Homo sapiens: one gene and its partners. The protein of the gene in region 5 purifies or fractionates together with the protein of the main gene of each other region. This does not show direct contact. Each region holds a gene or a part of one and is shown on either strand. Other genes may lie near its edges. The genes, in order: VRK2, SPPL2B, ATP1A3, PRSS33, FAM187B, CLGN and EARS2.

What was found.
Region 1: the proteins of FAM187B (region 5) and VRK2 purify together in Homo sapiens (affinity purification with mass spectrometry; 3 studies listed by BioGRID and IntAct, with this or other methods). This does not show direct contact.
Region 2: the proteins of FAM187B (region 5) and SPPL2B purify together in Homo sapiens (affinity purification with mass spectrometry; 3 studies listed by BioGRID and IntAct, with this or other methods). This does not show direct contact.
Region 3: the proteins of FAM187B (region 5) and ATP1A3 purify together in Homo sapiens (affinity purification with mass spectrometry, with the first as the bait; one large-scale study listed by BioGRID). This does not show direct contact.
Region 4: the proteins of FAM187B (region 5) and PRSS33 purify together in Homo sapiens (co-immunoprecipitation; one large-scale study listed by IntAct). This does not show direct contact.
Region 6: the proteins of FAM187B (region 5) and CLGN purify together in Homo sapiens (affinity purification with mass spectrometry, with the first as the bait; one large-scale study listed by BioGRID). This does not show direct contact.
Region 7: the proteins of FAM187B (region 5) and EARS2 purify together in Homo sapiens (co-immunoprecipitation; one large-scale study listed by IntAct). This does not show direct contact.

What each region holds. Positions count from the first base shown.
Region 1 is NC_000002.12:58,084,419-58,088,367, forward strand, and holds part of VRK2 (serine/threonine-protein kinase VRK2), read left to right. Parts: intron 1-462; coding exon 463-532; exon of another isoform or gene 533-581; intron 582-1,920; coding exon 1,921-2,008; intron 2,009-3,922; coding exon 3,923-3,949. UniProt on the Homo sapiens protein: Serine/threonine kinase that regulates several signal transduction pathways.
Region 2 is NC_000019.10:2,334,735-2,338,683, forward strand, and holds part of SPPL2B (signal peptide peptidase-like 2B isoform 2 precursor), read left to right. Parts: intron 1-2,708; coding exon 2,709-2,891; intron 2,892-2,897; exon of another isoform or gene 2,898-3,949. UniProt on the Homo sapiens protein: Intramembrane-cleaving aspartic protease (I-CLiP) that cleaves type II membrane signal peptides in the hydrophobic plane of the membrane. Functions in ITM2B and TNF processing.
Region 3 is NC_000019.10:41,983,784-41,987,732, forward strand, and holds part of ATP1A3 (sodium/potassium-transporting ATPase subunit alpha-3), read right to left. Parts: intron 2,447-3,949; coding exon 2,333-2,446; intron 2,216-2,332; coding exon 2,081-2,215; intron 1,641-2,080; coding exon 1,523-1,640; intron 1,404-1,522; coding exon 1,135-1,403; intron 1-1,134. UniProt on the Homo sapiens protein: This is the catalytic component of the active enzyme, which catalyzes the hydrolysis of ATP coupled with the exchange of sodium and potassium ions across the plasma membrane.
Region 4 is NC_000016.10:2,784,594-2,789,059, reverse strand, and holds the start of PRSS33 (serine protease 33 precursor), read left to right. Parts: upstream 1-1,499; 5' UTR 1,500-1,527; exon of another isoform or gene 1,528-1,585; intron 1,586-2,455; 5' UTR 2,456-2,512; coding exon 2,513-2,558; intron 2,559-2,938; coding exon 2,939-2,971; intron 2,972-3,098; coding exon 3,099-3,261; intron 3,262-3,413; coding exon 3,414-3,685; intron 3,686-3,888; coding exon 3,889-4,058; intron 4,059-4,257; coding exon 4,258-4,416; 3' UTR 4,417-4,466. UniProt on the Homo sapiens protein: Serine protease that has amidolytic activity, cleaving its substrates before Arg residues.
Region 5 is NC_000019.10:35,225,843-35,230,262, reverse strand, and holds the start of FAM187B (protein FAM187B precursor), read left to right. Parts: upstream 1-1,523; 5' UTR 1,524-1,582; coding exon 1,583-2,304; intron 2,305-4,420.
Region 6 is NC_000004.12:140,392,801-140,396,749, forward strand, and holds part of CLGN (calmegin precursor), read right to left. Parts: intron 3,406-3,949; coding exon 3,292-3,405; intron 3,170-3,291; coding exon 3,019-3,169; intron 1,242-3,018; coding exon 1,026-1,241; intron 1-1,025. UniProt on the Homo sapiens protein: Functions during spermatogenesis as a chaperone for a range of client proteins that are important for sperm adhesion onto the egg zona pellucida and for subsequent penetration of the zona pellucida.
Region 7 is NC_000016.10:23,550,691-23,554,639, forward strand, and holds part of EARS2 (nondiscriminating glutamyl-tRNA synthetase EARS2, mitochondrial), read right to left. Parts: intron 1,615-3,949; coding exon 1,459-1,614; intron 1-1,458. UniProt on the Homo sapiens protein: Non-discriminating glutamyl-tRNA synthetase that catalyzes aminoacylation of both mitochondrial tRNA(Glu) and tRNA(Gln) and participates in RNA aminoacylation for mitochondrial protein translation.

The DNA of each region.
Region 1 (3,949 bases), on a different chromosome or scaffold from region 5:
AAAGGCAAGCATAGGGTTTTATTTCTTTTTGGTGTCCCCTGTACCTAGTATAATGAATGAAATATAGTAGACCATTCAGTAAAGGTATCATGTGTGAGTGGACCACAAGGAGAGTTTGCTGTGTATCACCTGGATGTATATGTTGGTATACAGTGAGTGTTGTATATGTTTATGTATACAGTTCTCAGTGCTTCTAGTAAGTGTTCTCTGTAAGAAAACTACTTTTATGTGTAAGACTGTATAGGGATAGTGGTACAATATGTCGTTTAAAAATTAGATTCTTCAAGTTTATTTAGTGTTTTCTGAGATTTTTAGTGGAAATCTGGTGCCTATGTTTTATAAAAAGTGATTCAAGTACTATTATATACTACATATATATGTTCATATTTTCACAGTTGAAATAACAATTCCATCTTTGGGATTATTTTTTTCTAGTAAAATTAATTATTCTTTTTTTTATAGGAATATCAAGAAAATGGCCCGTTATTTTCAGAACTTAAATTTTATCAGAGAGTTGCAAAAAAAGACTGTAGTAAGTAAAATTAGCAAAGCAAGCTACTTCCATATATGTGCTTGCTAAAGTGAGTGTTGATATTTTGGTCTTTTTCTGGCCTTCTGGAAAATTCTTTTCAATAGAAATTTTATTGTAAAGTGATACAGTTAACTGTTACAACATATAAAAGCAAGACAGATGGTATACAAATCTTGACATGACATACATAATGGGTTATATATTTTAAGTCAAAGTTGTTTCTACTACTTTACATAAAATGTTAGGTTGTTAATCTAAGCTACCAAGAGTTCCCTAAGTGTAAAAGATAGTAGAATGAAATTATTTCTTTTACAGTAAACCATTTGGATAGGACGGCTATAAGGAAAAAACATTAAAATGGGAAGTAGATATATGTATAAAAAAAGAACGATTGTAGAATGGATTGGGGCAAGGTGTGTGGAAATGTGAAAATGATTAAACTTTAAGATGTTTAAGAAAATGTTAGAAACTTGAATGCTGGAAAATTAATTGGAGCTGGATACCAAGTGTAAGAATGACCAGTTAGAAGACTTGAATGGGAAATGAATATAAGCAGAGAGGAAAAATAACAGCATTTTATAAATGTGATATAGATGGGCTAAGAAAAACATTAAAGAAGTAGACAGGAGTAATGACTGTATAGTCAAGGTCCTTTACATCATGTTTAAGAATAAGAGTGATGGGTCTGACCTCAATATTTAACTTAGTTTTTCTTAATAAAGTCTTCTAAACATTAAGACTGTAATCTTTACTAATTGCTTAAACTATGTCACAGTGACAAATAGAATCCATTAAACTTGATTGTTTATCAGTAGAGCTGTCTTAAACATAAAAAACATAGGCTAGAGTCATGAAAAAAATGATGAAAGTTAACTTTATTTAAGTGGATTTGATTTTTTGTAAACTAATCAAAACCAGTTTTTGTATAAAGTAATTTCAAAGTAAGATGGTTTTTCTGCCCAATTTCTGCTTTTTTTTTCTTTTTTTTTTTTTTTTGGTCCATTATGGTTTTAAATCTTGAAGTAATAGGGAAGAAAAAGCCATCTCTCTACTGATCTTTTGGTGGTTAACATATGTTATATTTAGAAATTTAGCTAGTATATAAGATAATGAATTCTTTTTATAGATTGAAACATTAATATATATGGTATCAATATACAAAGCCTATGACTTGTTTTTATTGATTTAATTTAAAAATTTCTAATTTTTTGTTAATTATAGTGGTAACAGTTTGAGGCCATTAGATAGAGATGTTTGATTGAAAAAAAATTATCTTCTAGGAAGATCTAATTACTTTTTTGGTTAGCTAAATAAATTTGTCTGTAGAAAGGTGACAAGTATCTTTTCAAATAACATGAATCTTTTTAAAAATAAATTTGTCTTTGTAGTCAAAAAGTGGATAGAACGCAAACAACTTGATTATTTAGGAATTCCTCTGTTTTATGGATCTGGTCTGACTGAATTCAAGGGAAGAAGGTAAAATGGAATTATTATAATCAAATATTTCTTTATAACTATTCCTTATGTGGTCTATGAGTTAACTATTGCCATGTAACAAATTACCAAAACATATTGGCATATAACCACAAACTTGTATTGTCTTAGTTTCTGTGAGTGAGGAGACTGCAAGTGGCTTATCTGTATGATTCTAGATCAGGATCTCTAATAAGGATATGTAGTCAGCTGTCTGCTGGGTTACATTCATTTCAAGGCTCATCTGGGGAAGTATTTGTTTTCAGGGTTCCTCATGTGGCTACTGGTAGGCCTAAGAAGATCTACTTCTAATTTACTTATGTGATTGTTGGCAGGCCTTCTTACTTCCTGATCATGTGGGTCTTTGCATAAGCTACCTGAGTGTTATGAAAAATAGCTGGCTTTCTCTAGAGCAATTAATTGGGGGACGGGGAGAGCATGCACACAAGTGCATTCAAGAAGGAAGTCATCGTTTTTTGTAATCTAATCTTAAAAGGGATATTATCGCTTCTGCTTTATTCTCTTTGCTAGAAGCTAGTCACTAGATAGATCCATTGGTCCTGAGAGAGGAGAATTCAGTTCTATCTCTTGAGGAGAAGCACAACAAATAAGTTATAGAAATATCTTTAAAACCACCAAATATGGCTAGTCCTATATATAATTTATTAATAGTGTTTGAAAAAAGAAAAAAAGTGTGTCATTTTATATTTACCCTTTTGTGCCAGAGACTTTTATATACTTTATCTTATTTTGTCCTTTGAATAGCCTGTTAAAATAGGTGATATTATTTTTATTCCATAGATGAGAGAATAAGCTCAGATGTCAGTACTTTGTTGAAATGGTCTCTAAATGCTTTAAATTTAAAAAAATGAGCAAACAGTAATCTTGAAGTAAAGGACTGCCACTGGGGGACTGAATGGCTGATTGAATCATGATACATCCATATCATGTCATATGTAGCCCATTAAAGAAGTCCATTAGAGCTATACTAGTTGCCTTAGAAGGATTTTGATGAGATACTATTGAAAAAAGTAAGATGGAGAAAATACTTATAATATGATCACATTTTTGTAAAACAAATTCCTAAGTGTGTGTGTTTGTGTATGCATGCATAGATATAGAATAGGGGCTGATGTGGATATATAAATGAAGGGAAGGAAAGAAGGTATGGAAGGTGCCAAACAGAACAGAAAAGGAAGAAGTGCACTTAAAGACATGTTTATAAATGTATAGAGACGGTATATATGATCTTATCAAGAAACAAACAAATATAAAATTCATGTGGCTGGGCACGGTGGCTCATGCCTGTAATCCCAGCACTTTGAGAGGCTAAGGCAGGCGGATCATGAGGTCAAGAGGTCGAGACCATCCTGGCCAACATGGTGAAACCCCGTCTCTACTAAAAATACAAAAATTAGCTGGGTGTGGTGGTGCATGCCTGCAGTCCCAGCTACTTGGGAGGCTGAGGCAGGAGAATCGCTTGAACCTGGGAGGTGGAGGTTGCAGTGAGCTGAGATTGCACCACTGCACTCCAGCCTGGTGACAGAGCGGGACTCTGTCTCAAAAAAAAAATCAAGTGTGTACAATAATTTGTTCAAGGCCATATGGCAAGAAAGTCATGGAGTCAAAATGAATTGCATTCAGTACTATCTAATTTAGAAAGATTTTTTCATTATGTAAAACAGTGTGAATGGTTCAGTACAGCATTCTCTTATAGAAAATCAGCTGCAAAGTAAATATTGAGCAGTTTCTGCAAAAGAATAGCAGAATTATGAACGTGCATTCATTCTCTAATGGTTTAGATTGCATTATACTTAGTTGTTAGGTTGAGCGTAATTTTTCTTGTTTCAAATTAAATAGACAGTTTCAAGCATTACTTTCTCAGGATGATCTCTTTTTGATGCTTTTTTCTTACAGTTACAGATTTATGGTAATGGAAAGACT
Region 2 (3,949 bases), about 33 Mb from region 5:
GGCCGGGCGCCGCTGCGGAGGAGAATGCGGGGGCCCCGGGGCTCTAGAGACACATCCGGCTGGGGTTGCAGGAAAGATCCAGAGGCGAGAGGCAGGCCCTGACCAGGTCTGGGGGACTCTTAGCTGGCCCCCAGTTCCCCTGGGCCTCCCCAACCCTGGTCATCAATGCAAGCTGTCCATGCGGCCTTGGGGTGCAGATCCAGAGGCACCGGCCGAGCTCCATGTGGTAGATAAGGGTCTCTACTGCTCCATGCCGGGGACCCTATCCAGTGGGCCCAGACAGAGGGGTCCTCAGAGGAGTAACAGCAGAGGGCACAGTGGGGCCCCAGGGACGAGACCTGTTCCTTTCACCGTCTTCCTGACTGGGGCACTAACACCTGCTGCTGGATGAGTCCCTCCCTCAGAGGCCCCACCTCCTTTCCCACTTAGTCCTCATGCCCCGCCTCCTTTCCCACCGCATCCCTCAGGCCCCGCCTCCTTTCCACTGCATCCTTCAGGCCCCGCCTCCTTTCCCACTGCATCCTTCAGGCCCCGCCTCCTTTCCCACTGCATCCTTCAGGCCCCGCCTCCTTTCCCACTGCATCCTTCAGGCCCCGCCTCATTTCCCACTGCATCCTTCAGGCCCCGCCTCCTTTCTCACTGCATCCTTCAGGCCCCGCCTTCTTTCCCACTGCATGCTTCAGGCCCCGCCTCCTTTCCCACTGCATGCTTCAGGCCCCGCCTCCTTTCTCATTGCATCCTTCAGGCCCCGCCTCCTTTCCCACTGCATCCCTCAGGCCCCGCCTCCTTTCTCACTTCATCCCTCAGGCCCTGCCTCCTTTTCCACTGCATCCCTCTGGCCCCGCCTCCTTTCCCACCACACCCCTCTGTCCCTGCCTCCTTTCCCACTGCATCCTTCAGGCCCCGCCTCCTTTCCCACCCCATCCCTCAGGCCCTGCCTCCTTTCCCACCGTATCCCTCAGGCCCTCTCTCCTTTCCCACCGCATCCCTCAGGCCCCGCCTCCTTTCCCACTGAGTCCCTCAGGCCCCGCCTCCTTTCCCACTGTGTCCCGCCCCCTCCTGGAGCCCTCGAGGTGTGCCGGCGAAGAGGCACTAGCATCTTCCTGTCAGCTTTATGCATAGTGTGTGCGTGTGAGCACGTGTGTAATCAGTATGTGCCTGGACATGCTCATGTGTCTGCATGTTTATGTGAGTTTGCATCAGTGTATGTGTGCATGTGCCTGAGTGTTTTTTTGTGTGTGAACACATAGGTGTGTGTCAACACATGTAATAGGTATGTGAACACATGTAATAGGTATGTGTGAAGACATGTGCCTGAGTGCATATTTCTGAGTTTGTGTGTGTGAGCACATGTGTACTAGATATGTGCATGGACATGTGTGCCTTAGTGCGTGTTTGTGTGTCAGCACACCTGTGTGTGTGAGCATGTGTGTAATAGGTGTGTGGGGGCATGTGCATGGGTCTGAATGTGTATGTCTGTTTTTATGTGCACATGTGCCTGTGAGTGTGCATGCAATAGTTTTGTGTATGGATGTGTGAGTGCATGTGTGTCTGTATGTGTGCAGGTGTGTGTAAGCATGTAGCTACATAATAGTTATGTTTGTGGATGTGTGCATGTGTCTGCACATGTGTGCGTGTGTACATGTGTAATAGGTCTGTGTGTATGTGTGTGTACATGTGGATAATAGGTTTGTGTGTGGATGTGTATGTGCCTGTGTGTTTGGGTTCGTGTGTGTGCATGAGTGTGTGTGAGTGCATGTGTAATAGGTATGTGCGTGTGAGTGTGTGAGTTCATGTGGCGTGTGTGTATGCATGTGTGTGTAATAGGTGTGTGTGCGTGAGCTTGAGTGCACAGGTATGTGCTTGTATATGCACACGTGTGCTGTGTGCTCTGGCCTGGCTGTGTGTGCGTGTGTGTGTGCATGTGTGTAATAGGCATGTGTCTGCTTGAGTGTGAGTGTGCATGTGTGTGCTTGCGTGTGCATATGTGTGCCATGTGGTCCGGCCTGGCTGTGTATGTGTGCACGTGTGTGTGCATGCACTCCAGCCTGGCTGTGGGTGTGTGTGTGTGTGCGCGCTGGCCTGGCTGCGGCTATGTGCGTGTGTGTGTGTGTGCACTCCAGCCTGGCTGTGGGTGTGTGCGTGTGCACTGGTCTGGCTGTGGGTGTGTGTGTGTGTGTGCATGTATGCATGTGTGTGCCGTGTGCTCCAGCCTGGCTGTGGACGTGTGCTTGTGTGTGCGCGTGTTCCGGCCTGGCTGTGGGTGTGTGTGTGCGTGTGCGTGTGTGTGTGCGTGTGTGTCTTGGCTTCAGGGGCTGTGAGGCCCCTGAGAGTTGGGGCTTTGTTCTCTGCACACTGGAAACCCTCCCCCTTCTCACAGATGCCTGGCCGTGGTGGGGCTGCGGTGGGGACCCACTTGGTCTTGCTGAGTGATCTGTGACGGCTCGCGGGGTGGCTCAGGTATCAGGGGACAGCCATGTCTGTGAGGACTCCGGCCCCGCTCAGATGAGGCAGCCCAGCCCGTCGCCCAGGGTCCGGCTGTGGGAGCTGCAGTAGGGATGGCTCTGCCTAGGTGGGCCGAGGCCGTGCGGGGCTTTAGGTGAGGGCTGGGATCTAACTCAGCGCAGGCTTCAGGTGGGAGAACGGGCAGCTGGGCCCTCCTGGTGACTCACATCACGTGAGACAACACTGTGCCCTGGCCTTTCCAGTCTTTCCTGCAGCTGCGCAACTGGACGGCCTCCCTGCTCTGCTCCGCAGCCGACCTCCCCGCCCGTGGCTTCAGCAACCAGATCCCGCTGGTGGCGCGGGGGAACTGCACCTTCTATGAGAAAGTGAGGCTGGCCCAGGGCAGCGGAGCACGCGGGCTGCTCATCGTCAGCAGGGAGAGGCTGGTACGGCCCTGTGCGTCCCCCGCTGGGCCAGCTCTCAGGGGCAGGAGGGGGGTGCAGGAGGCAGAGATGGCAGCAGCTGGGGCTGGTCTTCCGACTTCTCGCTAAAGGCAGATCCATCTGTGGGGAGGATCTGGGCCGAGTGTGAACATGGGGAGGATCCGGGCCGAGTGTGGCCGTGGGGAGGGCGGAGATGAGTCTGTTCTTCCTGAGCTGCTGGCTGGGGCTGTGGAACTTTGGCCGTGGTCTTGTTGGGTGCCTGTCCTAGAGCAGCCCCCAGGGGTGACGGAGACCACACTCTCTGTGGGGATGGGATTGGGGTGGCTTCTGAGGAGCAGGTGGCCTGGCCCTGAGCTGGTCCTTTCTGGGTACCCTGGTGCCCTTGCCCTCTAGCCGGTGGGGCCGTGCTCGCCTGTGGTCCTAGCCAGGTGGCCTGAAGCCTGGCCCCTTTTCCATCTTCTGTGAAATGGGGCTGTGGTTGAGAGCTGGGGGCCTGGCAGGGCTGGTCACAGCACAGGGACATGCCGACTGCTGGGCTGGGCAGGGTGCGTGGCCGCCCCTGAAGTGTAGTTTTGGAGTAAGAAGGAATGGAGTTCAGGAATTCCCTCACAGCTCTGCCTGTGGCTCTGGGCTGCCCCCGCCAGTGTTGCACCCTGAGCCTGGCAATCCACGGAGGCCTGGTGCAGGGGCTCAGGGCCGAGGGCAGAGCAGGCCGGGCAGAGCCGAGAGTGCCATCCCTGTCCGCACACGCTGCCGTCGTAGTTGAGAGAGGCCCTCAGTGGGTGCGGGGCTCAAGGCGGCTTAGTGGGCAGGCATGGGCTGTGACAAGTATCACTCAGGACTTGTATGTGCGGTTCGGGAGTCCCACGGCCGAGGGAGGGATTAGTGGCGCTTTTAGGCCTGGGGCCCTGTTGTCAGGTGAAGAAGGCTTGATGCCCTTCGGCCTCCCTGTTCTTGGGTCCTCCTGGGGGGCCGGAGGCTGTCAGCTGCAGAGGGGGAGCCAGCAGGCGCCCCCAGCCTGACCCGAGCCTCGAGTGAGGGTCCCAGGAGAGGAGGCGAAT
Region 3 (3,949 bases), 6.8 Mb from region 5:
TTTTTTTTGAGACAGAATCTCGCTTTTGTCGCCCAGGCTGGAGTGAGGTGGCACGATCTCGGCTCACTGCAAGCTCTGCCTCCTAGGCTCAAGCTATTCTCCTGTCTCAGCCTCCTGAGTAGCTGGGATTCCAGGCACCCATCACCACGCCTGGCTAATTTTTATACTTTTAGTAGAGATGGGGTTTTGCCATGTTGGCCAGTCTGGTCTCGAACTCCTGACCTCAGGTGATCCACCCGCCTCGGCCTCCCAAAGTCTTGGGACTACAGGCATGAGCCACTGCGCCCAGCCTTCACATTTTTTGGTAGAGATGGGTTCTTACTATGTTGTCCAGGCTTGTCTCAAACTCCTGACCTCAAGCAGTCCTCCTGCCTCAGCCTCCCAAACTGTTGGGATTAAAGGCGTGAGCCACTGCGCCAGGCTTATTATTTTATTTTATTTATTTATTTATTTATTTTTGAGATGGAGTTTCACTCTTGTCACCCAGGCTGGAGTGCAATGGCGTGATCTTGGCTCACTGCAACCTCCGCCTCCCAGGTTCAAGCGATTCTCCTGCCTCAGCCTCCTGAGTAGCTGGGATTACAGGCATGTGCCACCACGCCCCACTAATTTTGTATTTTCAGTAGAGACAGGGTTTCACCATGTTGGCCAGGCTAGTCTTGAACTCCTGACCTCAGCTGATCTGCCCGCCTTGGCCCCCCAAAGTGCTGGGATTACAGCGTGAGCCAGTGCACCCAGCCTCATTATTTTATTTTTTAACTTGATGTACTCTTCAACTTTTCATCATGAGCGTGCACTTCTTAATTTTGCAATAGGATTGTTGGCTCTTTACGGCTTGCCAGTGTTTCTCAAGATTTTTGTTTGTTTCTTTCTTTGATTGTTTGCTTTGTTAATGAGGCCCTCTGAGTCAGGCCCAAGTTGTCTTTCACAAGAATACTGTGATCCAGGCCCCCAGCCCCTTCTCCGGACCCAGGGGTCCAGATCCCAGCCCCTCCTCCCCCAGACACACGGGTCCAGGCCTCTAGCCCCTCCTCCCTCAGACTCAGGGGTCCAGGATCCCAGCCCCTCCTCCCTCAGACCCAGGAGCCCAGACCCCCAGGCCCTCCCCACCCAGACCCAGGAGCCTGGCCTTACAGTGACAGTGGCCAGCAGACCCTCTGGGACATTGGCCACGATGATGCCGATGAGGAAGATGACAGCCTCAAGCCAGGTGTATCCGAGAATGAGGGAGAGGATGAAGAAGGAGACACCCAGGAAGACAGCCACGCCGGTGATGAGCTGGATGAAGTGCTCAATCTCGATGGCGATGGGCGTCTTGCCCACCTCCAGCCCTGATGCCAGGGTGGCGATACGGCCCATGACAGTGCGGTCGCCCGTGGCCACCACCACGCCCCGAGCCGTGCCTGCAGGCCAGAGGGGTTAGGCTGAGGTGGGGTGGCTCAGGGAGGTTCTGGAGGCCTGACCCCCTGGGACACATCCCTGTGTCTGCCCCAGCTGTGTGTCTTCTCTGCACCCGCCTCACCTTCCACACAGTTGGTGGAAAAGAAGGTGATGTTCCGAGTCTCCAAGGGGTTGTCGTGAGTGCAGTCGGGAGAGCGAGTCTGGGGCTCGGATTCGCCAGTCAGGGAGGAGTTGTCCACCTGGGGGTAGGTGCAGCAGAGAGAGGGTTCAGTCCAGGGCCTGGGACAGGAGGGTATTTGTGTACAGGGCTTGGGGCTGAAGCCTGTGTGCCTGGAGATCACAGCTAGAAGCCTGGGTGCCCAGTGGGTGAGTGGTGTGTGGGAGGCCAGAGGCTGGGATCTTGAAGGTGGGGAAGGCACAGTGCTGCTGGCCAAGGTCTAGGGTCCCTAAGGATCTCCGAAAGGTGAGGGCTGGGCCTGGACTCCTGACTGTTGGGTGAGGAGGTGGCCCAGGGCCTAAACTCCTGGGTCTGAGGGAGGAGGGCCTGGGGGCCTGGACTCCTGGGTCTGAGGGAGGAGGGGTTGGGACCTGGACTCCTGAGTGTGAGGGAGGAGGGGCTGGGCCTGAGCTCCTGGGCAGCCCGAGGGAGGGTAAAGCCGGGCCCTAGGCCCAGGCCCACCTTGCAGCCGTGGGCTGAGATGATCCGCAGGTCAGCTGGCACTCGGTCTCCACCCTTGATCTCCACCAGGTCCCCGACCACCACCTCCTCAGCGTTCACCTGCATCTTCTCACCTTCCCGGATCACCAGGGCTTGCTGAGGTGGGATGGAGTAATGTCACCTCCCAGACTCCCTCTGCCTGGGGGTCACTGGGCCCGGCCCCCAGCCCATACACTAACACCCCCGTCTGGCCCCTTGCTGGGCACCCTTCACCTGGGGCACCATGTTCTTGAAGGACTCCATGATCTTGGAGCTCTTGGCCTCCTGGTAGTAGGAGAAGCAGCCAGTGATGATCACCACGGCCGCCAGCACGATGCCCAGGTACAGCTGTGGGGAGATGTGGGGATGTTGATCAGGGGCCGCCCAAGCCACTCTCCACCAGTCCCTGCTCGCCTGGAGTCTGGGAAGGGAGCTTTGTGTCAGTGGGGGTCTGTATTTGTGTGTCTGACCCTAGGTTGGTTATGAGGGTTGGTGTGTCTGAGTCTCCCCTGTTTGTGCTTGAGTCCCTCTTTCTGTAATGGTTGTGTTTGAATCTAAGGGTCTGTCGATTTTTTTTTTGAGACAGAGTCTCACTCTGTCGCCCAGGCTGGAGTGCAATGGCATGATCTTGGCTCACTGCAATCTCCGCCTCCTGGTTCAAGCGATCCTCCTGCCTCAGCCTCCTGAGTAGCTGGGACTACAGGTGCATGCCACCACACCTGGCTAATTTTGTGTATTTTTAGTAGAGATGGGGCTTCACCATGTTGGCTAGGATGGTCTTGATCTCCTGACCTTGTGATCTATCACCTTGGCCTCCCAAAGTGCTGGGATTACAGGTGTGAGCCATCTTTCCTGGCATTTTTTTTTTTTTTTTTTTTTGAGACAGGGTCTCGCTCTGCTGCCTAGGATGGAGTACAGTGGCACAATCTCAGTTCACTGTAGCCTCAACCTCCCAGATTCAAGCAATCCTCCCTCCTCAGCCTCCGGAGTAGCTAGGACTACAGGTGTGCGCCACCAGGCCCGGCTATGTTTTGTGTTTTTTTAGAGGCTGGGTCTGTCTGGGTATGTTACTCAGGCTACTGGAACTCCTGGTCTCAAGTTACCCTCCTGCCTTGGCCTCCCAAGGTGCTGGGATGACAGGCGTGAGCCACCATGCCCGACTTGTCCATCTGTTTTGTGTGTGTGTCTGTCCTCCTGCACATGTTGAGTCTGGGATGCGGCTGTCTGTCCATGTGTCTGTCTGACTGGCTGCATGCCTGACTTTACATTCTACAAGGCAGCTTCTTTGGTTCTCTGTGTGTGGATCTCTGTCTCTGTGTCTCCAGCTCTGCCTCTCTGTGAGAGCTTATGTCTAAGACTGTTTAGATTTGAACATCTGAGGACACTCTCTGTGCCTGACTCTCATGTCTCTCTGTCACCAGGTTATGCCTGCATTGCTGTGTGTGTGTGTGCGTGTCAGTGTGTGTGTGAGTTTCTCTGTCAGTGTATATCTGAGTCTGTGTCTGTGTTTCTGAATTAGGTGGCCATGTTTGAAACCACATCCTGGTGTGGCATCTGCGTTGACCCTCCGTGCACATGCGTGTGTGTGCACACACGCCTACCCAGGTGAGCAGCTCTGTGTGGCTGGTGTGTGGTCTGTGTTATGCGCATGGGATCTGAGGCTGCATCTCGAATGTGTCCCTGTGTTATGGGGATGGGCCCTGATGTATCAGCAGCGGGGTGTGCCTGGGTCTCTATGTGACACTCACTCTGGGTATCTGTCAAGCCATGACCACCTGCTGGTGTCTGTTCTCAAGGCCGCTGAGGTCACACAGCCTTGGGACAGAGCCCCGGCTCACACATCCTGCTGTG
Region 4 (4,466 bases), on a different chromosome or scaffold from region 5:
TGCTGGAGGGGAGACAAGAGGATGTAAATCAAACCTCCTCAAGTCCCTGTCAAAGGACAACTATGGGCTGGCCTCGGTGGCACATGCCTATAACCCCAGCACTTTGGGAGACTACAGCAAGAGGATCTCTTGAGCCCAGGAGTTCGAGAACAAGTTGGGCATCATTGCAAGACCCCATCTCTGGAAAAAAAAATTGCTAGGTGCTGTGGCATGCACCTGTGGTCCCAACTACTTGGGAAGCTGAGGTGGCAGGATCACTTGAGCCCAGAGGTCAAGGACGCAGGGAGTTGTGATTGTACCACTGCACTCCAGCCTGGGTGACAGAGCAAGACCCTGTCTCTCTCTCCCTTTTTATTTTTTTTTGAGACAGAATCTCACTGCGTCGCCCAGGCTGGAGTGCAGTGGCATAATCTCGGCTCACTGCAACTTCCACCTCCCGGGTTCAAGCAATTCCTGTGCCTCAGCCTCCCGAGTAGCTGAGATTGCAGGCGCCCACCATCAGGCCTGGCTAATTTTTGTATTTTTAGTAGAGACGAGGTTTCACCATGTTGGCCAGGCTCGTCTCAAACCCCTGACCTCAAATGAGCCACCCATCTCGGCTTCCCAAAATGCAGGGATTACAGGCATGAGCCACCATGCTTGGCCAAGACCCTGTCTCTTTAAAAAAAAAAAGAAAGAAAAACAAAAAAAAAAAAAAGGAAAAAAGTACAACTATGGCAGGGCTGCAAAGGAGGCAGGAGGAGGTGGCAGAGCAGAAGGCTGAGGGATAAGAGGAGTTCACTATGCAGAGAGGGACTTGAGAGACTTCTAGGCAGCGAACACTGTGTATGAGCCCAAGAGGGAACTACAGGGCCCTGGACCATCCGGGCCCCGGTCCTCCACGGGCCTCGAGAGAAGGGGAGTTCCTGTCCCCTGACCCCAGCATCTTGCTCTGTCTCGGCCACCCCAAACCAAAGACTGCACTGGTCCCCAAGGTCAAGTCTCCCCCTGCCTCTGGTCAAGTAAGGAGTGCCACCAACTTTGAACCAGTCCCTTTCCACCTCCAGCTGCTCCAGACCCCGGATCTGGAAGGGGGCTGGCCATGCTGGGGTCTCTGGGTGGAGCTGTCTGGCCAGGACTTCCGTCTGAGATGGGATTTCTGGACAGAACAATGGAGCGCAGAAGCTCCAGCAACGTGTGCTCTGCAGGGAGCCCAGGTCAGGTTTGGAGAGGAGTTGCCCCGGATCCTGCAGAGCTTCCCCACCTGACTGCCACCCCTCCCAGCACCTACCCGCACCACTGCTCTCCGCCAGCCCCCACTTCTAGTACCTTGGCGCAAGGCAGGCTTCCTTTGAGAAACCCATTGACCCTTTCCTGCCACCTCTGAAGCTCTGCTCAAAGCATCTTTGTTTGAGGCTGGTCCGGTAAAGCCACAGCCCCGCCCCGGCCCTGTTCATTACTCCTTGGCTGAGCCTCGCGCTCTCCTGGCACTTTAAGCCCCCAGGCCCTCCCTCAACCCCAGTCAGCAGAAGGCGCCAGGCTGTGAGGGTGAGAGCAAGCCAGGGGCTGTGGGGGCTGCAGGGGCAGCCAGTGGGTGAGGATGAGGGTGAGGACGAGGAGGGGTGAAGGATGGGGGAGGGGGTGAGGATGAGGGAAGTGGTGAAGATGAGGGAGGGGAGTGAGGAGGAAGGGGGTGAGGATAGAGGAGGGGGTGAGGATGAGGGAGGGGGTGACGATGGGGGGGTGAAGGATGGAGGAGGGGTGATGAGAGAGGAGTGAGGATGAGGGAGGGGGTGAAGGATGAGGGAGGGGGTGAGGATGAGACAGGGGTGAGGATGAGGGAGGGGGTGAGGATGAGGGAGGGGAGTGAGGAGGAGGGGGCTGAGGATGGAGGAGGGGGTGAGGATAGAGGAGGGGTGAGGATGAGGGAGGGGTGAGGATGAGAGAGGGGTGAGGATGAGAGGTGAGGATGAGGGAGGGGGTGAGGATGAGGGAGGGGAGTGAGGAGGAGCAGGGGTGACGATGGAGGACGGGGTGAGGATAGAGGAGGAGGTGAGGATGAGGGAGGGGGTGAGGATGAGAGAGGGATGAGGATGAGGGAAGGGGTGAGGATAAGGGAGGGGAGTGAGGAGGAGGGGGGTGAGGATGGAGGAGGGAGTGAGGATGAGGGAGGGGGTGAGGATGAGGGAGGGGGTGAGGATGGGGGAGGGGGATGAGGGAGGGAGTGAGGATGACCGAGGGGGGTTAGGCTCCAGGGCTTCTGTCGAGACCAAGGATGCCCAAATATCTGGGTGGTGGGTGCTGCATACCTGGGCCCTGGGCAGAACGAAGGGTATACAGCCTGGGCCACCAGGATAAGTCCAGAACCCACCAGGAGCTGAGGACAGACAGAAGGACCACGGAGGGGGTGACGGGCTGGTGTGAGGATTGGTGCCCCTGGGCCAGGACTCTCCTCTCTTCTCCCTGCTGGCTCCAGACCAGAGTCCAAGCCCTAGGCAGTGCCACCCTTACCCAGCCCAGCCTTGAAGACAGAATGAGAGGGGTTTCCTGTCTCCAGGTCCTGCTCCTTCTGGTGCTGGGTGAGTGGGGACAGGGACTGGGGGTGAGGGCCGCAGACACCTTGGCTCCCAGTTCTCCCATCTCACTGCTCCCTGGGCCGGGCTCCCTGGAGCACTCTTGGGCTTTCTAATCTTGATTCCAAGGGCTCAATCCTCTCTGCCACTGACCTTGACCTCACCACACCTCGATGTGCTTGTCGGTGTCATGCTCATACGCCCTTGCCCCCTGCACCTTCACAGTGCTCTGGGGAGGGTTAAATAAGATAACAGACGGCACGAAAGCCTGGCGCAATGTCAGGGCAACATTGTTTCACCCTCCTTCCTCATCTCTGGCCTCCCCTCCAACTCCGTTATTTGACACCAAATCTATAATCTGGTCCCTTCCCTGCTTCCTCCTCCAGGAGCTGCTGGGACTCAGGGAAGGAAGTCTGCAGGTGAGGAAGCCTCGGAGTCCACCCGAGTCAGCCCCTCCTGGACCTCGGCCCCGTGTCTCCCCACCAACACCTGCCTCCCAGGCCCCAGGTCCTCAGCCAACCCTCACCGCCCCTGGTCCTTTTCTAGCCTGCGGGCAGCCCCGCATGTCCAGTCGGATCGTTGGGGGCCGGGATGGCCGGGACGGAGAGTGGCCGTGGCAGGCGAGCATCCAGCATCGTGGGGCACACGTGTGCGGGGGGTCGCTCATCGCCCCCCAGTGGGTGCTGACAGCGGCGCACTGCTTCCCCAGGTCAGCGCTCACCGAGGGCCCAGGCGGGGTGTGCAAGGAAGGCAAGGCCCGCAGAGGACCGGGCGTGGCCTGGCAGAGGCGTTGGGGTCGAGGCGGGCTGGAGGGGGTCGAGGACCCGGTGCTGGAAGTAGTCCCCCGCTCCTGTCCTGCAGGAGGGCACTGCCAGCTGAGTACCGCGTGCGCCTGGGGGCGCTGCGTCTGGGCTCCACCTCGCCCCGCACGCTCTCGGTGCCCGTGCGACGGGTGCTGCTGCCCCCGGACTACTCCGAGGACGGGGCCCGCGGCGACCTGGCACTGCTGCAGCTGCGTCGCCCGGTGCCCCTGAGCGCTCGCGTCCAACCCGTCTGCCTGCCCGTGCCCGGCGCCCGCCCGCCGCCCGGCACACCATGCCGGGTCACCGGCTGGGGCAGCCTCCGCCCAGGAGGTAAGGCAGGAGGGCGGGGCTCCGAGGCATCCGGGAGCCCCCACGTCCTCCTCCATCTGACTGGAAATCCCAGCCCCTCACTGCCCCAATCCAGGACCCAGCGCGGCTTCTAGGGAACAAAACCTCCTCTCACTCAGAGCTCAGCTTCTCCCACTGGCCCCCGCTCCACGCCTTCCTCTCAGAGGTCCCTCCTCTTCCCCCAGTGCCCCTCCCAGAGTGGCGACCGCTACAAGGAGTAAGGGTGCCGCTGCTGGACTCGCGCACCTGCGACGGCCTCTACCACGTGGGCGCGGACGTGCCCCAGGCTGAGCGCATTGTGCTGCCTGGGAGTCTGTGTGCCGGCTACCCCCAGGGCCACAAGGACGCCTGCCAGGTGTGCACCCAGCCTCCCCAGCCTCCGGAGTCCCCTCCCTGTGCCCAGCACCCTCCCTCCCTGAACTCCAGGACCCAGGACATCCCAACTCAGGCTCAGGATCCTGGCCTCCAACCTAGAGGCACCACGCCAGGGGTCTGGAACCCTGAGAACTGAAGTCCTGGGAGGGCTGGGACTTAGGCTCCTCTTTCTCCTGCAGGGTGATTCTGGGGGACCTCTGACCTGCCTGCAGTCTGGGAGCTGGGTCCTGGTGGGCGTGGTGAGCTGGGGCAAGGGTTGTGCCCTGCCCAACCGTCCAGGGGTCTACACCAGTGTGGCCACATATAGCCCCTGGATTCAGGCTCGCGTCAGCTTCTAATGCTAGCCGGTGAGGCTGACCTGGAGCCAGCTGCTGGGGTCCCTCAGCCT
Region 5 (4,420 bases):
TCTGGAAGATCATTTAATTTATTTATTTATTTATTTATTTATTTGAGGCAGTGTCTCTGTCACCCAGGCTGGAGTGCAGTGGCGCAATCTGCACTCACTGCAACCTCTGCCTCCTGGGTTCAAGCTATTCTTCTGCCTCGGCCACCTGAGTAGCTGGGATTACAGATGCCCGACACCATGCCTGGCTAATTTTTTGTATTTTTAGTAGAGATGGGGCTTCACCGTGTTGGCCAGGCTGGCCTCGAATTCCTGACCTCAAGTGATTCTCCCATCTTGGCCACCCAAAGTGCTGGCAAGTGCTGGCATTACAGGTGTGAGCCACCGCCTGAGAAGGTGTTTAGAAAAGGGGATGGAAGGAAAGGGAGCAACTGAGAAAAATATTTGTTGAAGATGTATTGAGTCATGCAGATGGCTGAGGGAAGAGACGGGGACCAGCATGTGCAATGGTTCTGGGGCAAGAGCCCCTCTGCCTGCCTGACAGATTCAGGGAACAGCGGGAGGCCAGCGTGGTTGGAGGGTAGGGAGTAGGGGGAAAGGTGCAGGAGGTCAGAACAGTAACCAGAGATAAATTTTTTTAAATTTTTATTATTTTTTTTGAGATGGAGTTTCACGCTTGTCACCCAGGCTGGAGTGCAGCGGTGCGATCTCGGCTCACTGCAACCTCCGTCTCCCAGGTTCAAGTGATTCTCCTGCCTCAGCCTCCTGAGTAGCTGGGATTACAGATGCCCGCCACCACACCCAGCTATTTAGTAGAGACGGGGTTTCACCACGTTGGCCAGGCTGGTCTTGAACTCCTGACCTCAGGTGATCCGCCCGCCTCAGCCTCCCAAAAGTGCTGGGATTACAGGCATGAGCCACCGAGCCCAGCCCGAGAGGATTTGTTTACTGCTTTATCCCCAGTGCTAAGAAGTGTGCCCAGAACATAGTAAGAGTTCAGGAAATATGTGTTGAGTGTTCACATGTGACACCTTCATGCTCTTATTTCATCCCTGGGAATGTAGTCTCACCCCTGGGAAAGGAAGCGGGGCAGGTAGTAGAGAAAACTCTGAATAGACAAATTAAGTTTGCTCCTTTCCCAGCAAAATGGAGGGCTTGGAATAGAAATTAAATATGGTCAGCGGGGCACAGTGGCTCACGCCTGTAATCCCAACACTTTGGGAGGCCAAGGTGGGAGGATGGCTTGAAGCCAGGAGTTCGAGACCAGCTTGGGCAACATAACAAGACCCCGTCTCTACAGAAAAAATTTTAAACTAGCTGGGCATGGTTAGCATGCACCTGAAGTCCCAGCTACTCAACAGGCTGAGGTGAGAGGATTACTTGATTCCAGGAGTTTGAGGCTGTAGTGAGCTGTGATTGCAGCACTGCCTTCCAGCCTGGGTAAAAGAGCGAGTCCTTGTCTGAAAAAAAAAAAAAAAAGAAAAACAGTGTTGTCAGCTTGTCACAAAACAAAAGGGGATGGTGACCTCACACACACATGTGGTAGCTGCAATTCATCCCACTGCCCAGGGCTGAGGCCAGAGTTCATGGGTGACCTCACAATGTTCGGGGTGGCACCAGCCCACTGCCACAGCCCCAGTCCACCATGCCACCCATGCTGTGGCTGCTGCTCCACTTTGCTGCCCCGGCACTGGGGTTCTACTTTTCCATCAGCTGCCCCAGTGGTAAGCAGTGCCAACAGGCCCTACTCTCAGGCAATGATATTCTCCTGTATTGCAACTCCTCGGGGGCGCACTGGTACTATTTATTCACACAAGGCAAGAAGGGCAGGCTCACCAGCCTCACCAATATTTCCAATATGGAAATAATGCCCGAGGGCAGCCTTCTCATTAAAGATCCATTGCCCTCCCAGACGGGCCTCTACCACTGCTGGAACAAGAATGGCCGCCAAGTGGTGCAGTATGAAATTGACTTTCAGGATGTCACCACCCTGCATATAACACACAAGGACCTGGGTCAGAGGCCCCTGCAGAACGAGACCCTGCATTTGGGCAGCAAACAGCTCATTTTTACCTGGTGGGAGCCCTGGCAGGACTGCAACCGCTGTGAGGAGCCGGGCGAGTGTAAACGCCTGGGGTACCGCTACATTGAGGAGCCTCTGGAGGAAGCCATGCCCTGCTGGCTCTATCTGGGAGAGGTGCTGGTGTGGTCTAGCCGCTTGCGGCCTGAGCTGCAGGTGGAAGCCTGCCACGTCCAGTGCACCAATAACACACAGTTAAGGGTGGATTACGTCATTTTTGACAACTTCAGGCTCGATGAGAAGACAGAATTTGTGTGGCTCGACTGTCCCTTAGGATCCATGTACAGGTGATGGAATCCCTGCCTCTGGCCCCTACCCAGATTCTTCCGGTCAGGGGATCCTTCCTGGTAATATGTGCAGAGGGATGAGTGGGCGTTCTTTGCAGTTCAGCCACGTAGTGGTCATCAGGACAGTGCCAGGCCCTGCTCTTAAACAGTCCGAGGGGGACACAGCCCAGGGTGGTGCGAGCCGGGATGGGAGAAGCCCAGGCAGACAGATGGGGCTGTGATGGGGGAAGCCCAGGAAGCTTAGGGGCTCCAACAGGCCCCTGCTTCATCTGGAAAGGTCAGTGAGACCTTGGAGGAGAGGCTGGTGCCCCCGGGGCTTCCCATCAAGGCCTGCCTCCCAGAACTCACACTCATCTTCTTACTTCCTGCCAGGAGCCTCTGGAAAATAGCCCCTTCCCCTCCTCTCCCCCAGTCCACCTGCCCCTTAATAAGAAATGCAGGCTGGGCGCGGTGGCTCATGCCTGTAATCCCAGCACTTTGGGAGGCCGAGGTGGGTGGATCACCTGAGGTCAGGAGTTCGAGACCAGCCTGGCCAACATGGTGAAACCCCGTCTCTACTAGAAATACAAAAATTAGCCAGGTATGGTGGCACGTGCCTGTAATCCCAGCTACTCAGGAGGCTGACGCAGGAGAATCACTTGAACCCGGGAGGCGGAGGTTGCAGTGAGCCGAGATCACACCACTGCACTCCAGCCTGGGCAACATCACGAGACAACTCTGACTCAAAAAACAAAAAAACAAAAAAACCCCAGAAATCCATTGTCTCACCCTTCTGGAGGCCGTAAGTCTGAAATCAAGGTGTCAGTAGAACCACGCTCCCTCTCAGTCCCTCTGAGTGAGCTGGGCAGAATCCTCCTTTTTTCTAGCTTCTGGATGCAGTCAGAGATCCCGGTCTTCTCTGGCTTGTGGCTGCTTCTCTCCAATGCCCGCCTCCATCATCACTTGGCATTCTTCCTGGGTGTCTGTGTCCCTGTCTCTCTTTTCCTTTTCTTAAAAGGACACCGGTCAGATGGGATTGAGGGCCCACCTTATTCCAATATGCTCTCATCTCAACTGATTATATCTGCAATGATCCAATTTCCAAATAATGTTACATTCTGAGGTTCTGGGAAGGACATGCATTTTGCGGGGGCCACTGTCTAACTCAGTGCAGAGGTCTTGCCAGCCCCTGGCCACACAGGGTCATTGTGATGTGTTAAGGGGACTAAAGACTGTAGAGTGCCTGCCATAGCATCCAATAAGAAGTTCCACAATGTACCTAGCTGGGAATGCAAGCTTTTATGATATTGTCTGTGGAATATCCTCTCTGTTCTTCCACCACGCTGGGTGTGTCGGTGCCTGATTCATTTCTCCACTAAACACGTGTTCACTGCATATTTATATGCCAAGCTCCATTCTAGGGACCTGGGAAACAGTGAAGAACACAACCAACGGAGATTCTTGCCCTTGTGGCGCATAAATATATAGTTTTATTATTATTATTGTTATTATTATTAGAGACAGGGTCTTGCTCTTTCACCCTGGCTGGAGTACAGTGGCACAATCACAGCTCACTGCAGCCTCAATTCCCCGGGCTCAGGTGATTCTCCCATCTCAGCCTCCACAGTAGCTGGGACTACAGACATGCACTACCACACCCGGCTAAGTTTTTAAGTTTTGTAGAGATGAGGTCTCACTTTGTTGCCCAGGCTGAGCCCAAACTCCTGGGCTCAAGTGATCCTCCCACATCGGCCTCCCAAAGTGCTGGGATTACAAACCTGAGCCACTGTGCCCGACCTATAGTATTTTGGATGGTGACGGAGCAGGAAGGGATGCTGGGAATAGGGGAGGTTAAAAGTGTCAAGTGGTGGGGTCAGGGAAGGCTCCTCTGAGAAGCTGCCATTTCAGCCCAGACTGAAAGGAGGCGAGGAAGCCCTGGGGACAGAGGGAACAGCCAGGGCCAAGACTGCACCCAGCATGTCAGAGGAACATCTAGGAGAGCAGCGTGGCTAGGCAGAGTGAGTAAAGGGGAGAGTGAAGGAGATGAGACCAGACAGGCAAAGGCAGGTGGACAAATCATTTAAGGAGTGCCCTTGCTAACTCCTCCAAATAACCTTATGAGGTACAATCATTACTC
Region 6 (3,949 bases), on a different chromosome or scaffold from region 5:
CATTTTACATTAAGGAGTGATGAACTCGTAAGTAAAAGAAGTTTCATTTTCCCACCTTATACTTTGTAAAGTCTAATTTAATTATTAGCATGCATCACTGAGTGAGACTTGATAGCAGAAGGTATGTTATGACAAAAGTGGAAACTTCTAACATACTGGCAAGAAAAATGGTAATTTTCCTTTTTGGTAAATTTCAGAATAGAACTACCTTTTATGGATGTATTACCTGGTTTATTTGAAGTGATCATTCATTCTGTACTCTGATCATTCATTCTGTACTTTTAAAGAACTTACTAAAAATCATACCTCAGAATTGTTTTCTTTTTTATATAAACACATTTCACACATAAGACCCTCAGTAAGGATATTATTTCTCTTATTAAAATAAAATTTAAAAAATCAAATGTTTTAGTTACAAGAGGTTCAAAACAAGAATCCCTCTTCACCTACTCTTTTGATGGTTTTTCGCTAGTGACCCAAGGAACCAAATGTAAGGTAAGAATTTTTCTTTATAGCAACTGAATTTAATGATACATTTTCTAAGATGCATTGTGTTGAAATATTTAGCCCAACCTTTTCTAAACAGTGTTAAGGTTTCGGGAAAAAACTGGAACAGAATTTAATAATGTTAAACTATAAATTCTTTGTACATTCCTCTAAGTAAAAAATAGTTAAATAAACAGTAATATTTAGATTATCATTGTCACTTAGGTCTTGAACTGGCAAGATGACAAAGATATTAAGTAGTCTTCTTCTATGAACAGTAAATAAGCATTAAATCCCATTAGTGATGTTATAATTTAATGAATAAAATGAGGACTTACATATGCATATATAGCTCATAATGAAGTAACATAAAAAGCAAAATATTCTGTCTACATAAACTTATTCAAACACATTTCCTTGGCATTTAGTAGTTACTGCACATTTATTTGCATTTAAAAGAGCCATCTGAATAACCTACAACCAAGACCAAGTATTATTATTCATAGTTATATCACTACTGCTATTGGTCAACACCATACCTTATTAGCATTTGCTATCATTATTTTCCATCTCCAACCATCTGCAGCCCAGTGATCTGCTACTTCCTTTTCCGAACAGATAATAAAATTATCAAAGTAGATATCAGAGGTCATAGACCAAAGCTCTAAACCAAGAGCACTGAAAGAAGTCAGAAGAAATGGATGATCATCTTCGAAATAATCTGGATTAGGAATTTTTCGAGGACTCCAGATTCCCTGGAAGAAAAGTAATTGAAGACATTTTCAAATAAAATAACTTCATTATAAATGCTGCTTAATAAGTAGCTGCTGTTGAATGAAATTCGCAATGCTAACTGGAAAAAAGAGAATTTTAACTGATATTAATTCATTAGTAATATACTGGATATAAAATCTTGTTTCTTTTGCTGTGTACACAATGTTCCCTACGAGTGATACTAACTTTAAATTCTGCAAGAAAAGGAAAAGGGAAAATCCAACATAAACAGAAACGTGAATAAATTTCACAATTTGTCTACTTTGGACAAATTTTTAGATTTAGTAAAGTTATTCATTGCAAAATGTTATTCAAGTTGTCCAAATCAGAAAGATCATTGTATAGCAAAAATGGAGTTACTCCATTTAACATATACCCATGACAGATATCATTAATCAGGTATGGTTGAATCTCGGCACAACTACTCAACCTAAAACTTCCATTAGATCTTAAATGATTAAACTGTCCATTAAATCAAATACATTCAACAATATCATTGCTCACTGACTCACTCCACCATCACATGTATGTATTCTGGGCCAGGCACTATGCCAGATGATGGAGACATACATGGTTCCTGTATTATGGAGTTTAAAGTCAAATAAAAGAGACAGACATCAAACAAAAAAATTTACCAAAAGAAACATTTTGTGTTAAATGCTTTTAATAAAAACTACAGTGAGTAATTAGAATATGAAACTGCATATATATAATGTTAGAACGTATCCATAAATAATTACAAAGATAAAACTAGAGGGTTAAGTGGATAACATAGAAACTTTTAATATAAAAAGCTAGGTACACTCAAAAGATGTCGATTGATATCAGAAAAAAATCAGGGCTGGGTTCGGTGGCTTACTTCTGTAACCTGAGCACTTTGGGAGGCCAAGGTGGGCGGATCACGGTCAGGAGTTCGAGACCAGCCTGACCAACATGTGAAACCCCGTCTCCGCTAAAAATACAAAAGTTAGCCGGGCGTGCTGGGGTGTGCCTGTAATCTCAGCTACGTAGGAGGGTGAATCAGGAGAATCGCCTGAGCCCAGGAGGCAGAGGCTGCAGTGAGCCAAGATCACGCCAGGCCAGGTTTTTTGTTTTTTTGTTTTTTTGTTTTGAGTCTTGCTGTGTCGCCAGGCGGGAGTGCAGTGGCACGATCTCAGCTCACTGCGATCTCCACCTCCAGGGTCCAAGAGATTCCCCTGCCTCAGCCTCCTGAGTAGCTGGGACTACAGGCGTGCGCCACCACATCTGGCTAATTTTTTGTATTTTTAGTGGAGACAGGGTTTCACCATGTTGACCAGGGTGGTCTCCATCTCCTGACCTCGTGATCCGCCCGCCTTGGACTCCCAAAGTGCTGGGATTACAGGCATGAGCCACCGTACCTGGCCAAAAATCAGAATTTTAATAATACTAAATAATAAGTACATTAATTAAGCACAGGCATTAATTACTAAAATGTACAATATGAGTCTATTTGATCAAAATTCACTTCTTATATTTACTTCTAAAATAGAACTTTATTTCAAAGTGAGCATCAACTGATAATTAGGGAAGAATATAGTATGAAGTGATTTATTTCCCCAGAAAATTAAATAATTGATGCTCTACTTTTAAAATATAAATTAGTTGAGGTCTATTTTCTTTGACATCTTAAAATTAAAAATGAAACTTCCAAAAGTTGACATAGGTAATTAGATATTTAAATAGAAAAGATCACAACATTTTTAACTTCACTAAATAATTGGAACAAGCGGTTGTTACCTGATAGTTAGGATTATCGACCAGTGGAGGTCTCCATACTCCTTTGTATTTTGGGTTATCTATCATGGGAGGTTTCCACTCACCACACCCAATCCGACATGCTGGATTAAGAATCTGAGGTGCCTCCCATTCTCCATCCGTGTCTTCATTCCTTAGGATATTAAAACAAAGCAAATACAGTAACCTCAAGTCTCAGATCAGTCATATAAACTAGTAACAAAAATGCATGTAAGAAACATTTGAAATCGACATTTGAAGATGAAGAGTGCTTACCAGTCATCAGGTTTTTCAGCATTAGGATCAGGGATAAATTTTGGTTCATCATCAAGCCAGCCAGCAGGTTTAACAACACTTGAATCTTCTATTTGGGCAGGTTCACTTTCATCCCTGTAAATACAACGTTTTATATTACTAATTATTCAGAAAGTTTAAAAATGCATGTTACAACACTAAGAAGGTACCATAAAATTATTTCCCTCCCTTTTGTTTGTGCCTGTTATTTGTCCTCATCTACTACCCACCTAAATCTTTTGCTAACTTGCCAATTTTTGGTACATATTCCCTGTTGTGCTCTATGCATACATGCACACACGTATACATTCTTTTTTTTAATACGAATGATAGCATTCTATACATAATGTATTAGACCTTGCTTTTGTTACTTAAAAACTCAGTCATTCATCAACAAATATATATTGCATGCTTACTATGTGTCAAGACTGTTCGAGGAGCTCCATTATTATTATTTTTTTCTTGAGGTGGAGTCTTGTTCTTGTTTCCCAGGCTGGAGTGCAATAGTGCGACCTCAGCTCACTGCAACCTCTGCCTTCCGGGTTCAAGCAATTCTCCTGCCTCAGCCTCCAGAGTAGCTGGGATTACAGGCACCTGCCACCACGCCTGGCTAAGTTTTTGTATTTTTAGTAGAGATGGG
Region 7 (3,949 bases), on a different chromosome or scaffold from region 5:
CCTCCCAAAGTTTTGGGATTACAGGCGTGAGCCACCACGCCCGGCCAACCATTTTATACTCTTTAGGAATCCAGAGTTTAGTGAGTAATTTACCTGAGATTAGAACACACATCTCAAAATAGTCTTGGGGTTTTTCTTTCTTTTTTTTTCAATCTCTAGACTAGCAGAGTCTTGGTATTTTTCCTTGGGAATCTCCCCTTTCCTAGTCACACCCGTCCATACAGGTAGACAACTGTCGACCCATGAAAAGGAAACACACTCCTCTTTGTTCTCCCTGACCTTAGCTGTCCTCAGGATAAAACTTCCCACAAGATCAACTTCAGAAGCTGTACGTGTTTTGTGTGGCTTATACAACATGGTTAAAAAAAATCTGAGCCCAGATTTAATAATGGTTAAGTATTCATCCAGAAAAACTGGATTTCTGGCTCCTCTTGCAACTCAGAGGATTGGACAAGCTGGGCCAGCATTCCCGCATGGGCACAAGGAGCTGGAGCTCAGAGGCACTCCCAACTCTGGATGAGGTGTGGTTTTCACAGCTCAGCACTGGCCCAGCTCCTCCAGTTCCCACTTGGCCCTGTGTTTCCTGCCTGGCCCCTGTAGGGAATGAACTTGAGATTCTGAGGTGAAAACAGGAATCTCAAAACAGCCTTGGCAGTGGCTCACACCTGTAATCCCAGCTCTTTGGGAGGCTGTAGCAGGAGGATTGCTTGAGCCCAGGAGTTTGAGAATAGCTTGGGCAACACAGTGAGATCTCATCTCTACAAAAAAATTAAAAATTAGCCAGGCGTGGTGGTGCGTGCCTGTAGTCCCAACTACTTGGGAGGCTAAGGTGGAGGATCACTTGAGCCCAGGTCGAGGCTACAGTAAGTTATGATTGTGCCATGGAACTCTAGCCTGGGTAACAAAATGAGACCCTGACTCTAAAAAATTAAAAAATAAAGAAACCAAGTTGGGCGCGGTGGCTCATGCCTATAATCCCAGCACTTTGGGAGGTCGAGGCAGGTGGATCACGAGGTCAGGAGGTCAAGATCATCCTTGCTAACACAGTGAAACCCCGTCTCTACTAAAAATACAAAAAAACTTAGCCGGGCGTGGTGGCGGGCGCCTGTAGTTCCAGCTACTTGGAGGCTGAGGCAGAAGAATGGCGTGAACCCGGAAGGCGGAGCTTGCAGTGAGCCGAGATCGCACCACTGCACTCCAGCCTGGGCAACAGAGCAAGACTCTGTCTCAAAAACAATAAATAAATAAAAATAAAGAAACCAGTCTTGGAGCTGTGTTTCAGAGAGCTTCGGCATTTTTTCAGGTGTCATCTGCCACCCCGGGCAGGGCAGTACAAATGTAGCCACTTCTCCAGGAACTCCCCATTTTCCACTCAGAACTCCATGAGAAGACCCACAGGCTCCTTTTCCTGCTTCCTGTTCCTTCCCTGCAGAAAGATCCTTTCTCTGCCAGGCTTACCTGCCCACTCCAGCATGTCCTCAATATTCTCCGCTGCCCCAGGCACAACGCGAGTCTGATCTGTGTCCTCTAGCCTCAGGATGAAGCTCCCCTGGTACTTCTTAGCAAAGATGTAGTTGTACAAGGCAGTGCGGAGGCCACCCAGGTGCAAGAAGCCTGGAGAAGAGAACAGCTCAGATAAGACAGGGAAGATAAGCTAATAGGCCTCAGCAAGGGGCAAGTAAGCACTACTGTGACAGAATGTTGCAATAAATTTAAAAGACCAGCAGGACACATTGGCTCACGCCTGTAATCCTACCACTTTGGGAGGCCAAGGCCGGGGGGATCACTTGAGCCCAGGAGGTTCCTGTAGGTTTTTTAAGACAAGAGTCTCACTCTGTCACCCAAGCTGGAGTGCAGTGGCACAGTCTTGGCTCACTGCAACCTCTGCCTCTTGTGTTTAAGCAATTCTCATGCCCAGCCTCCCGAGTAGCTGGGATTACAGGTGTGTGCCACCACGTCCAGCTACATGTTTGTATTTTTGGTAGAGACAGGCATTCGCCATGTTGGCAAGGCTGGTCTTGAACTCCTGGCCTCAAGTGATCCCCCCAGCCTCGGCCTCCCAAGTGCTGGGATCACAGGCAAGAGCCATCACACCTGGCCAATTTTTGTATTTTTAGTAAAGATAGGATTTTGCCATGGTGGTCAGGCTGATCTCGAACTCCTGACCTCAAGTGATCCATCTGCCTTGGCTTCCCAAAGTGCTGGGATTACAAGCGTGAGCCATTGTGCTTGGCCTGAGTTTGAGATCTGCCTGGGCAACATGGTGAGACCTTGTCTTAGCAAAAAATATAAAAATTTAGCTGGGCATGGTGGTACATGCCTGTGGTTTCAGTTACTGAGGTGGGAGGATCACCTGAGCCTGGGGACGCTGAGGCTGCAGCGAGCCATGATCACGCCTCTGCACTCCAGCCTGGGCAGCAGTAGAGTGAGACTCTGTCTCAAACAAAAAAAATTAAAAATTAAAAAATTTTTTTTCAAAGACTAAGAACTAGTTACCCCTGTGCCCTGTCTCCAGACACATTTAATCCCTCATCCTGAAAATGGAAACCACCCAGGATTTGGAGCATGTCATTTTATTAAAAGGCTCCAATTTTCCCCAACTGCATCCACCACTCTATTTTGATATTTGTCTCAAGGCCAAGTTTCGCCTGAAAGAGAAGCAGAGAGTTATTCATTGAGGCCATATCATGTACATTTAACTTACAGAAATTCAATGATGTGCGCTGGGAAAAAAATTAATTACAAACAAACTAGAAATTTAAAATACTGTACAATCATATTGTGGGCCAGGTGCAGTAGCTCACACCTCTAATCCCAGCACTTTTGGAGGCAGAGGCACGAGGATCACCTGGGTCTCTAAATTTGAGACCAGCCTGGGCAACATTGTGAGATCCTGTCTCTACAAAGAAAAAAAAAATCGGTGGGGCATGGTGGCTCACACCTTTAATCCCAGCACTTTGGGAGGCCGAGGCGGGTGGATCACAAAGTCAGGAGTTTGAGGCCAGCCTGGCCAACATGTTGAAACCCCGTCTCTACTAAAAATACCACAAAAAAAATTAGCTGGGCATGGTGGTGGGCGCCTGTAATCCCAGCTACTTGGGAGGTTGAGGCAGGAGAACTGCTTGAACCCAGGAGACAGAGGTTGCAGTGAGCCGAGATCGCACCATTGCACTCCAGCCTGGGCGACAGGGCGAGACTCCATCTCCAAAAAAAAAAAAAAAATCACATTTTGCATATGCAGTCTATGCAGTGTGCATGACTGTCCACGTCGTACATTTTAAATTTCATCTACTTGAGATTTTTACTTTTTTAAAGAAACAAAATTCATTTTTGAAATTTGAGATGGGGTCTCACTCTTGCCCAGGCTGAAGTCCAGTGGTACAGTCACGGCTCACTGCAGCCTCAACCACCCAGGCTCAATCAATCCTCCCACGTCAGCCTCCCAAGTAGCTGGAACTACAAGTGTACACCACCATGCCCGGCTAATATTTGTTTTTTGGTTTTTTTTTTGCAGAGGCAAGGTCTCACTATGTTGCCCAGGCTGGTCTCAAACTCCTGGGCTCAAGCAATCCTTACACTTCAGCCTCCCAAAGTGCTGGGATTACTGGCATGAGCCACCATGCCTTGCCAAGATTTTCACCCTAATTGCTGGCTTTAAACACTAACCAAAAGTAGTGTTTGATTCCACTGTATTTCTCTTCATCAGTTTAAACTCCTAAGATTTGCCTTTTTCATCATTCCTGTCTGAAAACTGAAAGTTAACAGCTTTTCCAGAGTTGTCATTACCTCTTACCGTACCTTCTTCGGACCAGCCCACAGCCCTAAGTCTCCACAATGAGCTCATCTACATTTACAAGTACAAGAGGCAGCAGAGGAGAGAAAAAGCTCTTCTGGGGCCAGGCCGACCCTGCTTCAACACTGATGTGTGTAACCTTCGGATAGTTACTGC